2 separate regions of the Homo sapiens genome follow, and region 1 is linked to region 2. Evidence: fine-mapped expression QTL. A gene starts in region 2. The other region holds a variant in brackets. All regions are shown on one strand. Distances are from middle to middle. Region 1 has its middle 4.1 kb from the start of ERBB3. Region 2 holds the start of SUOX (sulfite oxidase).

Region 1 (4,516 bases), 79 kb after region 2:
TGTTTGTTTTTTGAGACAGAGTCTCACTCTGTCGCCCAAGCTGGAGTACAGTGATGCGATCTCAGCTCACTGCAACCTCCGCCTCCCAGGTTCAAGCTATTCTCCTGCCTCAGCCTCATGAGTAGCTGGGACTACAGGCATGCACCACAATGTCTGGTTAATGTTTTTGTATTTTTGGTAGAGACAGGGTTTCACCGCATTAGTCAGGCTGGTTGCAAACTCCTGACCTCGAATGATCTGCCCGCCTCGGCCTCCCAAAGTGCTGGGATTACAGGCGTGAGCCACCAGGCCTGGCCTTACCTAGGATTTCTTTATTATTTTTGTATGATGTAGAGATGGGGAGTCTGGCTATGTTGGCTAAGCTGGTCTTGAACTCCTGGCCTCTGCAATCCTCCCACCTCAGTTTGCCCAAATTGTTTGGATTTCAGGCATGAACCACCATGCCTGGCCTTACCTAGGATTTCTTACTGTTCTACTGAGACTAGTGATCTGCCCACCTTGGCCTCCCAAAGTGCTGGGATTACAGGCATGAGCCACTGCACCTGGCCCAGGATGATTTCTTTTACTTTTATTTTCACAGTAAAATAATAGCCAAAGTCATCAGCTAAGAGTAAGGAAAGATAAAGGGATGCTGGAAAACTGCAGAGATTGTTCATAAATAAAGCCTCCCTTCTTTCATTTATTCAGTCAGGACAGCACCCAACAGAGGTGGCCAGTTACTTGGCAGCTTTATCTACTGTGTATATCCGGGATGCTTAGCATGACGTGTCCCTAAGTGTTGAAGAATCCATCGCATCTTGGGATCTAGCTGAGAGGGAAGGGTTGGGGTTGGGAAAATAGCAATAGATACAGCTAGCGTTCATTGAATGCTTCTTAAAGGTTGAGCACAGTAATTCAGAGCTCCACCTGACTTTTCTCATTGAATCCAAACAACAGTCAGCCAGATGCAGTGGCTCACGCCTGTAATCCCAGCACTTTGGGAGGCTGAGGCGAGTGGATCACCTGAGGTCAGGGGTTCAAGACCAATCTGGCCAAAATGGTGAAACCCCATCTCTACTAAAAATACAAAAATTAGCCAGGCGTGGTGGCAGGCGCCAGTAATCCCAGCTACTCGGGAGGCTGAGGCAGGAGAATCACTTGAACCCAAGAGGTGGAGGTTGCAGTGAGCCAAGATCACCCCATTGCACTCCAGTCTGGGCAACAAGAGCGAAACTCCGTCTCAGAAAAAAAAAAATCCAATCAACAGTCTTTTTTTTTTTAAGGTTTTTTTTTTTTTAATTTATTTTTTTATTGATAATTCTTGGGTGTTTCTCACAGAGGGGGATTTGGCAGGGTCATGGGACAATAGTGGAGGGAAGGTCAGCAGATAAACAAGTGAACAAAGGTCTCTGGTTTTCCTAGGCAGAGGACCCTGCGGCCTTCCGCAGTGTTTGTGTCCCTGATTACTTGAGATTGGGGAGTGGTGATGACTCTTAATGAGCATGCTGCCTTCAAGCATCTGTTTAACAAAGCACATCTTGCACCGCCCTTAATCCATTTAACCCTGAGTGGACACAGCACATGTTTCAGAGAGCACAGGGTTGGGGGTAAGGTCACAGATCAACAGGATCCCAAGGCAGAAGAATTTTTCTTAGTGCAGAACAAAATGAAAAGTCTCCCATGTCTACTTCTTTCTACACAGACACGGCAACCATCCGATTTCTCAATCTTTTCCCCACCTTTCCCGCCTTTCTATTCCACAAAGCCGCCATTGTCATCCTGGCCCGTTCTCAATGAGCTGTTGGGTACACCTCCCAGACGGGGTGGTGGCCGGGCAGAGGTGCCCCTCACCTCCCAGACGGGGCGGCTGGCCGGGCGGGGGGCTGACCCCCCCACCTCCCTCCCGGACGGGGCGGCTGGCCGGGCGGGGGGCTGACCCCCCAACCTCCCTCCCCGACGGGGCGGCTGGCCGGGCGGGGGGCTGACCCCCCCACCTCCCTCCTGGACGGGGCGGCTGATCGGGCGAGGGGCTGACCCCCCCATCTCCCTCCCGGATGGGGTGGCTGCCGGGCGGAGACTCTCCTCACTTCCCAGATGGGGTGGCTGCCGGGCGGAGAGGCTCCTCACTTCTCAGACGGGGCAGCTGCCGGACGGAGGGGCTCCTCACTTCTCAGACGGGGTGGTTGCCAGGCAGAGGGTCTCCTCACTTCTCAGACGGGGCGGCCGAGCAGAGACGCTCTTCACCTCCCAGACGG[G/A]GTCGCTGCCGGGCAGAGGCGCTCCTCATATCCCAGATGGGGCGGCGGGGCAGAGGCGCTCCCCACATCTCAGACAATGGGCGGCCGGGCAGAGACGCTCCTCACTTCCTAGATGTGATGGCGGCCGGGAAGAGGCGCTCCTCACTTCCTAGATGGGATGGCGGCAGGGCGGAGACGCTCCTCACTTTCCAGACTGGGCAGCCAGGCAGAGGGGCTCCTCACATCCCAGACGATGGGCGGCCAGGCAGAGACACTCCTCACTTCCCAGACGGGGTGGCGGCCGGGCAGAGGCTGCAATCTCAGCACTTTGGGAGGCCAAGGCAGGCGGCTGGGAGGTGTAGGTTGTAGTGAGCCGAGATCACGCCACTGCACTCCAGCCTGGGCACCATTGAGCACTGAGTGAACGAGACTCCGTCTGCAATCCCGGCACCTCGGGAGGCCGAGGCTGGCGGATCACTCGCGGTTAGGGGCTGGAGACCGGCCCGGCCAACACAGCGAAACCCCGTCTCCACCAAAACCAGTCAGGCGTGGCGGCGCGTGCCTGCAATCGCAGGCACTCGGCAGGCTGAGGCAGGAGAATCAGGCAGGGAGGTTGCAGTGAGCCGAGATGGCAGCAGTACAGTCCAGCTTCGGCTCCGCATGAGAGGGAGACCGTGGAAAGAGAGGGAGACCGTGGGGAGAGGGAGAGGGGGAGGGGGAGGGGGAGGGGGAGGGACCAATCAACAGTCTTATAAGTAGATACAACAGTGTATAAACAAGGAAACCAAGGAAGATTTTTCTCCTTCAGAACTCGGACCCTGAATACCAGGTTGAGCTGGAGCTGAGTGAGTAATAAAATGAAAGGCCCTTTAATGTGGGGGAGGGTAGGTAGGAGTGGAGACCCTTAAGTAGTATCAGCACTGTTGTCTGATGGGAGTGTGAATCTGAACACATGAAGCTCCAGTCTCAGTAGAACAGTAAGAAATCCTAAGTAAGGCCAGGCATGGTTCACATCTGAAATCCTAACAATTTGGGTAAACTGAGGTGGAAGGATTGCAGAGGCCAGGAGTTCAAGACCAGCTTGGGCAACATAGCCAGACCCCCACCCCCACCCCCGCATCTCCATATCATACAAAAATAATAAAGAAATCCTAGGTAAGGCCAGATGGTAAGGCCAGGTGTGGTGGCTCATGCCTGTAATCCCAGCACTTTGGGAGGCCGAGGTGGGTGGATTGCCCAAGGTCAGGAGTTCAAGACCAGCTTGGTCAACACAGTGAAACCCCGTCTCTACTAAAAATACAAAAATTAGCTAGGTGTTGTGGCAGGCACCTGTAATCTCAACTACTCAGGAGGCTGAGGCAGGAGAATAGCTTGAACCCAAGAGGCAGAGGTTGCAGTGAGCCAAGATCGAGCCATTGCACTCCAGCCTGGGCACCAAAAGCGAAACTCAGGAGAATGCCTTGAACCCAGGAGGCAGAGGTTGCAGTGAGCTGAGATCACGCCATTGCACTCCAGCCTGGGTGACAGAGCGAGACTCCATCTCAAAAACAAACAAACAAATAAACAAAGTAGCCAGACATTTTGGTGCCCACCTGTAGACTCAGTTACTAGGGAGGCTGAAGTGGGAGAATCACCTGAGCCTGGGAAGTTGAGGCTGCTGTGAGCCATGATTGCACCACTGCACTCCAGCCTGGGTGACAGAGGGAGATCCTGTCTCAAAAAAAGGAAAAAAAGCCAGGTGTGGTGGCTCACACCTGTAATCCCAGCACTTTGGGAGGCTGAGGTGGGTGGATCACCTGAGGTCAGGAATTAGAGACTAGTCTGGCCATCACAGTGAAACCCCATCTCTACTAAAAATACAAAAAATTAGCCGGGCTTGGTGGCGCACGCCTTGTAGCCCCAGCTACTTGGAAGCCTGAGGCAGGAGAATCACTTGAACTCAGTAGTGAGCTGAGATCAGGCCACTGCACTCCAGCCTGGGTGACAGAAACAGAACAAGATTCCGTGTCAAAAAAAAAAAAGCAACAGACCAGAAGGCCATGAGGTCAAACAAAACAATGTTTTGTTTTTGTTTTGAGATGGCGTCTCACTCTGTCGCCCAAGCTGGAGTGCAGTGATGCAATCTCAGCTCACTGCAACCTCCACCTCCCGGGTTCAAGCGATTCTCCTGCCTCAGTCTCCTAAGTAGCTGGGATTACAGGTGCCCACCATCATGCCCAGCTAATTTTTGTATTTTTAGTAGAGACGGTGTTTCACTATGTTGACTAGGCTGGTCTCGAACTCCTGACCTCAAGTGATCTGCC
Region 2 (4,000 bases):
GCCTCCCAAAGTGCTGGGATTACGGGCGTGAGCCACTGCGCCCGGCCGTATGTGCATATTTCTAGGATCCATTTCTATATGTTTCTCAAAGGGGTCCATGACCCAAAGGTTGAAAAACATCACTGAGTTAGTTTTCTTGTAGCTTCCACCTCAACGGGAAAATTTCCTCTGGATCTGCTCTTGACTCCTAGTGTACTTCAAACCCTTCAGTCCACCACAGTCTAAAGGTCGAGGGAAGGGAAATGAAATAGGATTATGTGTGGTTGCAGTAGGCTTTAAATTCCAAAGAATCTGAAGGTGGATAGGAAAGAGGACTGGTGCCAGACAAATCTGACATTCTAGGCCTGTCTCTGTCAACTTAACCAGCTGTGGCCTTGATCAAGTTAGTTAGTGCCTTCCGCCTCGTTTCTTCATCTGTAAAGTAAAAGCTGAAGATTAAGGTCAATTATGTAAAGTATGTGTGTCACACAAAAGTAGATGACACTATTAGGAAGGAGGCTTTTAGATAGTCCCTAACTGACTTCTCTGTATCTTCCTTTGGCTGAGACTTTTTTTTTTTTAGGTTGAAGCTCGCTTTCTCTCTCTCTCCCTCTTTCTCCCTCTCTCTCTCTCTCTCACTCTCTCTCTCTCCATATATATATACATATATATATATATATATATTTTTTTTTTAACAACTGGTAGGATAGGTTGGGCATTAGCCTTCTTCAGTGATTTGATTGTATACAGATTGAAATCCTTTCCATTTCCAAACACTTAAGAGCCAAAGCCAACTTGCCAACTTTTCACTGTCGGTTCCCTTACCTTATATCTCTTGGTAATACCCCCCACCCCCGTTCCCTGATTCCTGGTAAAAGCTCTAGTTGGAGAGCCGAAAGGAAAGGAAATGATCTTTCAAAATTAAAGGTGAACACCTTCACTTAAACTGATTAAAATTGCAGCTCCACCGTCCGGCCTCTAGAGGGCAGTGTATGGATACATTTGTCCAGATTGGGGGACTAGGTTTGATAAATTTTGTCCTGCATCAAATGACAAAAGGGTAATAGGAAATGTATTATATTTATGCCCCTTACTTTGAGATAAGAGACTACAACCTTCATACTTCGGGGTGTTAAGCTGCCATTGCTCTTGTTAAGGGGCAGTTTGTTTTTTAAGAGATGGGGTCTTGCTCTGTTGTCCAGGCTGGAGTGCAGTGCCGCGATCTTGGCTCAGTGCAACCTCGAACTCCTGGGCTTAAGCGATCCTCCCGCCTCAGCCTCCCGAGTACTGGGACTACAGGCGTGTGCCACCAAGGGGCGATTATTATTTTTTTTTTCTACGCAAAATAAAAGACGGCTATTCAGTGTTGTTGTTTCATTTTTGTTTGGGGAGAAATTCGACTAGCCCAAGGAATCTCAAATTCTTGGAACCACTATTTTAGGCATTTCTGTTATCATTCCTGGAATACGAGAACTAAGCGATTGACTTTGCTTTCCCTAAAAGATAAACAGGGTAGTTGTAGTTGCAACAGAGTAGATAGAGGTAGGTCTACCCTGGGTTTAAAGTGGAGATCACAGCCGGGGAAAACCGGACTGGATCCCGAGGCCTCCTCCAGGGAGGGGCGGCAGGGGTGTCTCAAAATCTCCCACCTGTCAGCCCAACTTTTGGATTCCTTGTCACCTTCCACACTGCCCGAGCTCCGGACATACAGCCCTGGTGCACAAGGGTCCCATTCTTTGCACACCAGGGGTATAATGGACTCCGGACTGTTGGCGAGAGTGACAGCAAAAAGAGCCAGCCTCTTCTCCCAGGCTTCTTAGCAACCTGCCTGTCTCGGCTCCAGGAGGCGGGTTCCAGCCAATGGTTGAGCCACCCGCTTCCAGCCAATGGCTGAGGGATAAGCTGAGGGGAGTGAGAGGTCACTTACTGCAGCCGGACATAACGGCGCTGGCCCCGCCCCTTCTCGAGAACTCGCAGAGCTGGGCTGGTAAAATTGCAGTGCTGAAGACACTGGACCCGGTAAGGAGACTGGGGGTGGTAAAGAAGCTGGGGAGGAAGGGCTGCTGAGCTGGGCAGCGGAGGGGGCCTTGGTGTCCAGCTGTGCTCCGAACCTCAAGGGCAACAAAACTATCAGTACCTGCCTCCACTCCTTCTGTCTGGGTGCTCTTGAGATCGCGGGGTGTTGCCGCAAGACCCTTTTGTGCCTGGATGCCGGACGTATGTTCCTACCTAACGTGCCCATGGGGAGTGAGGGGTCATCACCTGCACCAACGGGTGGCATTTCTGTATTACAGCAAAAGGCTGTCCCTCCCAAACCTGGGATTCTGGGCTCACTGAGTTCACCTGCGAGTCAGCCCTACCTGCACTGCTCTGGTCTAGTACAAACAGGCTGCTGGCATTGAGGTAGGTGGCAGAGAGAGTAATGGTCCCATGGCCCAGGGGCAAGGTGAAGACTGCTCCTATTCCCATCTCTAGGTTTCCTTTCCTCCCTACCCACGACCCACCCACCCCAGCACATTGGTCTCCAGCATCTCATCAGCAGTTTAGACATTTGTCACCCCTCCTCACTTTGGCCCTGCTGGGTCAGTGCTCTCTGTTCAGCAATTTGAGGAAGAAACTTGCAGGGCAGAGAGCAGAAAAATTACCTTCCTTCTCCAGCCTGCCCCTGACACTCTGGCCATTAACTCCTCAATTTGCTGAGCTCACTACAGTGGCACAGAGAAGATTGAGGTGGTCCGGGACCCTAGGTTGGGGTCCAGTTCCCAGCTGGGTTCAATTTTTTTTAGGGTGAATGGAGGGAGAGTTGGGGACTGAAAAGCCTTCAAAGACAATGTTATTACAGCAGTCTCCCCTTATCCAAAGTTTCCTTTTCCTGAGTTTCAGTTAGCTATGGTCAACCGCTTGGAAAATAGTTGAACACAGTACAATAAGATATTTTGAGGCTGGGAGTGGTGGCTCATGCCTGTAATAATCCCAGGACTTTGTGAGACCAAGTTTGAAGGATCACTTGAACCCAGGAGTTTGAGACCAGCCTGGGCAACATAGTAAGACCTCATCTCTACAAAAAAAAAAAAAAAAAGACCATGCATGGTGGCACACGCCTGTGGTCCCCGCTACTCAGGAGGTTGAGGCAGGAGGATGGCTTGAGCCCAGAAGTTTGATGCTATAGTGAGCTGAGATCACGCCACTGCACTCCAGCCTGGGCAGAGCAAGACCCTGTCAGGGGCAGGGGGAGGGGAGGGGAAGCCGGACAGTGGCTCATGCCTGTAATCCCAGCACTTTGGGGGCTAAGGCAGCAAGAGGCCAGGAGTTCAAGACCAGCCCTGACAACATAGACTCCCATGTCTACAGAAAAATTAGCCAGGCTTGGTGACACACACTTGTAGTCCCAGCTGCTGGGGAGGCTAAGGCAGGAGGATGGCTTGAGCCCAAGAGGTTGAAGCTTCAGTGAGCCATGATCGACACTTGCTCCATCGCCCAGGCTTTTTTTTTTTTTGAGACAAGGTCTTGCCCTGTTGCCCAGGCTGGAGTACGGTGGCGCCATCATAATTCATTGCAGTCTCGACCTCCTGGACTCAAGCCATCCTCTCATCTCAGCACTCCTCTCCCCACCACCCCGGTAGCTGAGACTACAGACAGGCACCACCATGCCCAGTTAATTTGTTTTTTTTTTTCTAGAGACACAGTCTCACTATGTTGCCCAAGCTGGTCTTGAACTCCTGGAGTCAAGTGATCCTCCTTCCTTGGCCTCCCAAAATTTTGGGATTATAGGCATGAGCCACCATGACTGGCCAAAAAAAAGTATATTTTGAGAGAGAGACCACATTCATATAACTTTTTTTTGTTTTTGTTTTGAGACAGGGTCTCGCTCTCTGTTGCCCAAGCTGAAGTGCAGTGGCACAGTCAGCTCACTCTGTAACCTCAAACTCCTGGGCTTAGATCTTCTCAGCCTCCAGAGTAGATGGGACCACAGGTGCGCTCCACCATGCCCAACTAACTTTTTATTTTGTAGGGACGGAGT

What was found. PIP is the estimated chance that this variant, and not a neighbour inherited with it, causes the effect.
Region 1: its variant is the best candidate, but not a certain one, in a credible set for the expression of SUOX in whole blood (INTERVAL, PIP 0.60).

Annotation. Positions count from the first base shown.
Region 1 is chr12:56,073,826-56,078,341 of GRCh38, forward strand. No RefSeq gene overlaps it. Among named protein-coding and RNA genes, the nearest start is that of ERBB3, 4.1 kb to the right of the region's middle. RefSeq lists an enhancer at 4,123-4,172. The variant G/A (reference allele first, on the strand shown) is at 2,235.
Region 2 is chr12:55,995,342-55,999,341 of GRCh38, forward strand. It overlaps SUOX (sulfite oxidase), which reads left to right and starts at 1,935. Exons shown (of 5, transcript NM_001032386.2): 1 at 1,935-1,998; 2 at 2,274-2,382. RAB5B (RAB5B, member RAS oncogene family) reads left to right here. Exons shown (of 6, transcript NM_002868.4): 6 at 1-1,342. RefSeq lists an enhancer at 1,709-2,209 and a silencer at 1,795-1,984.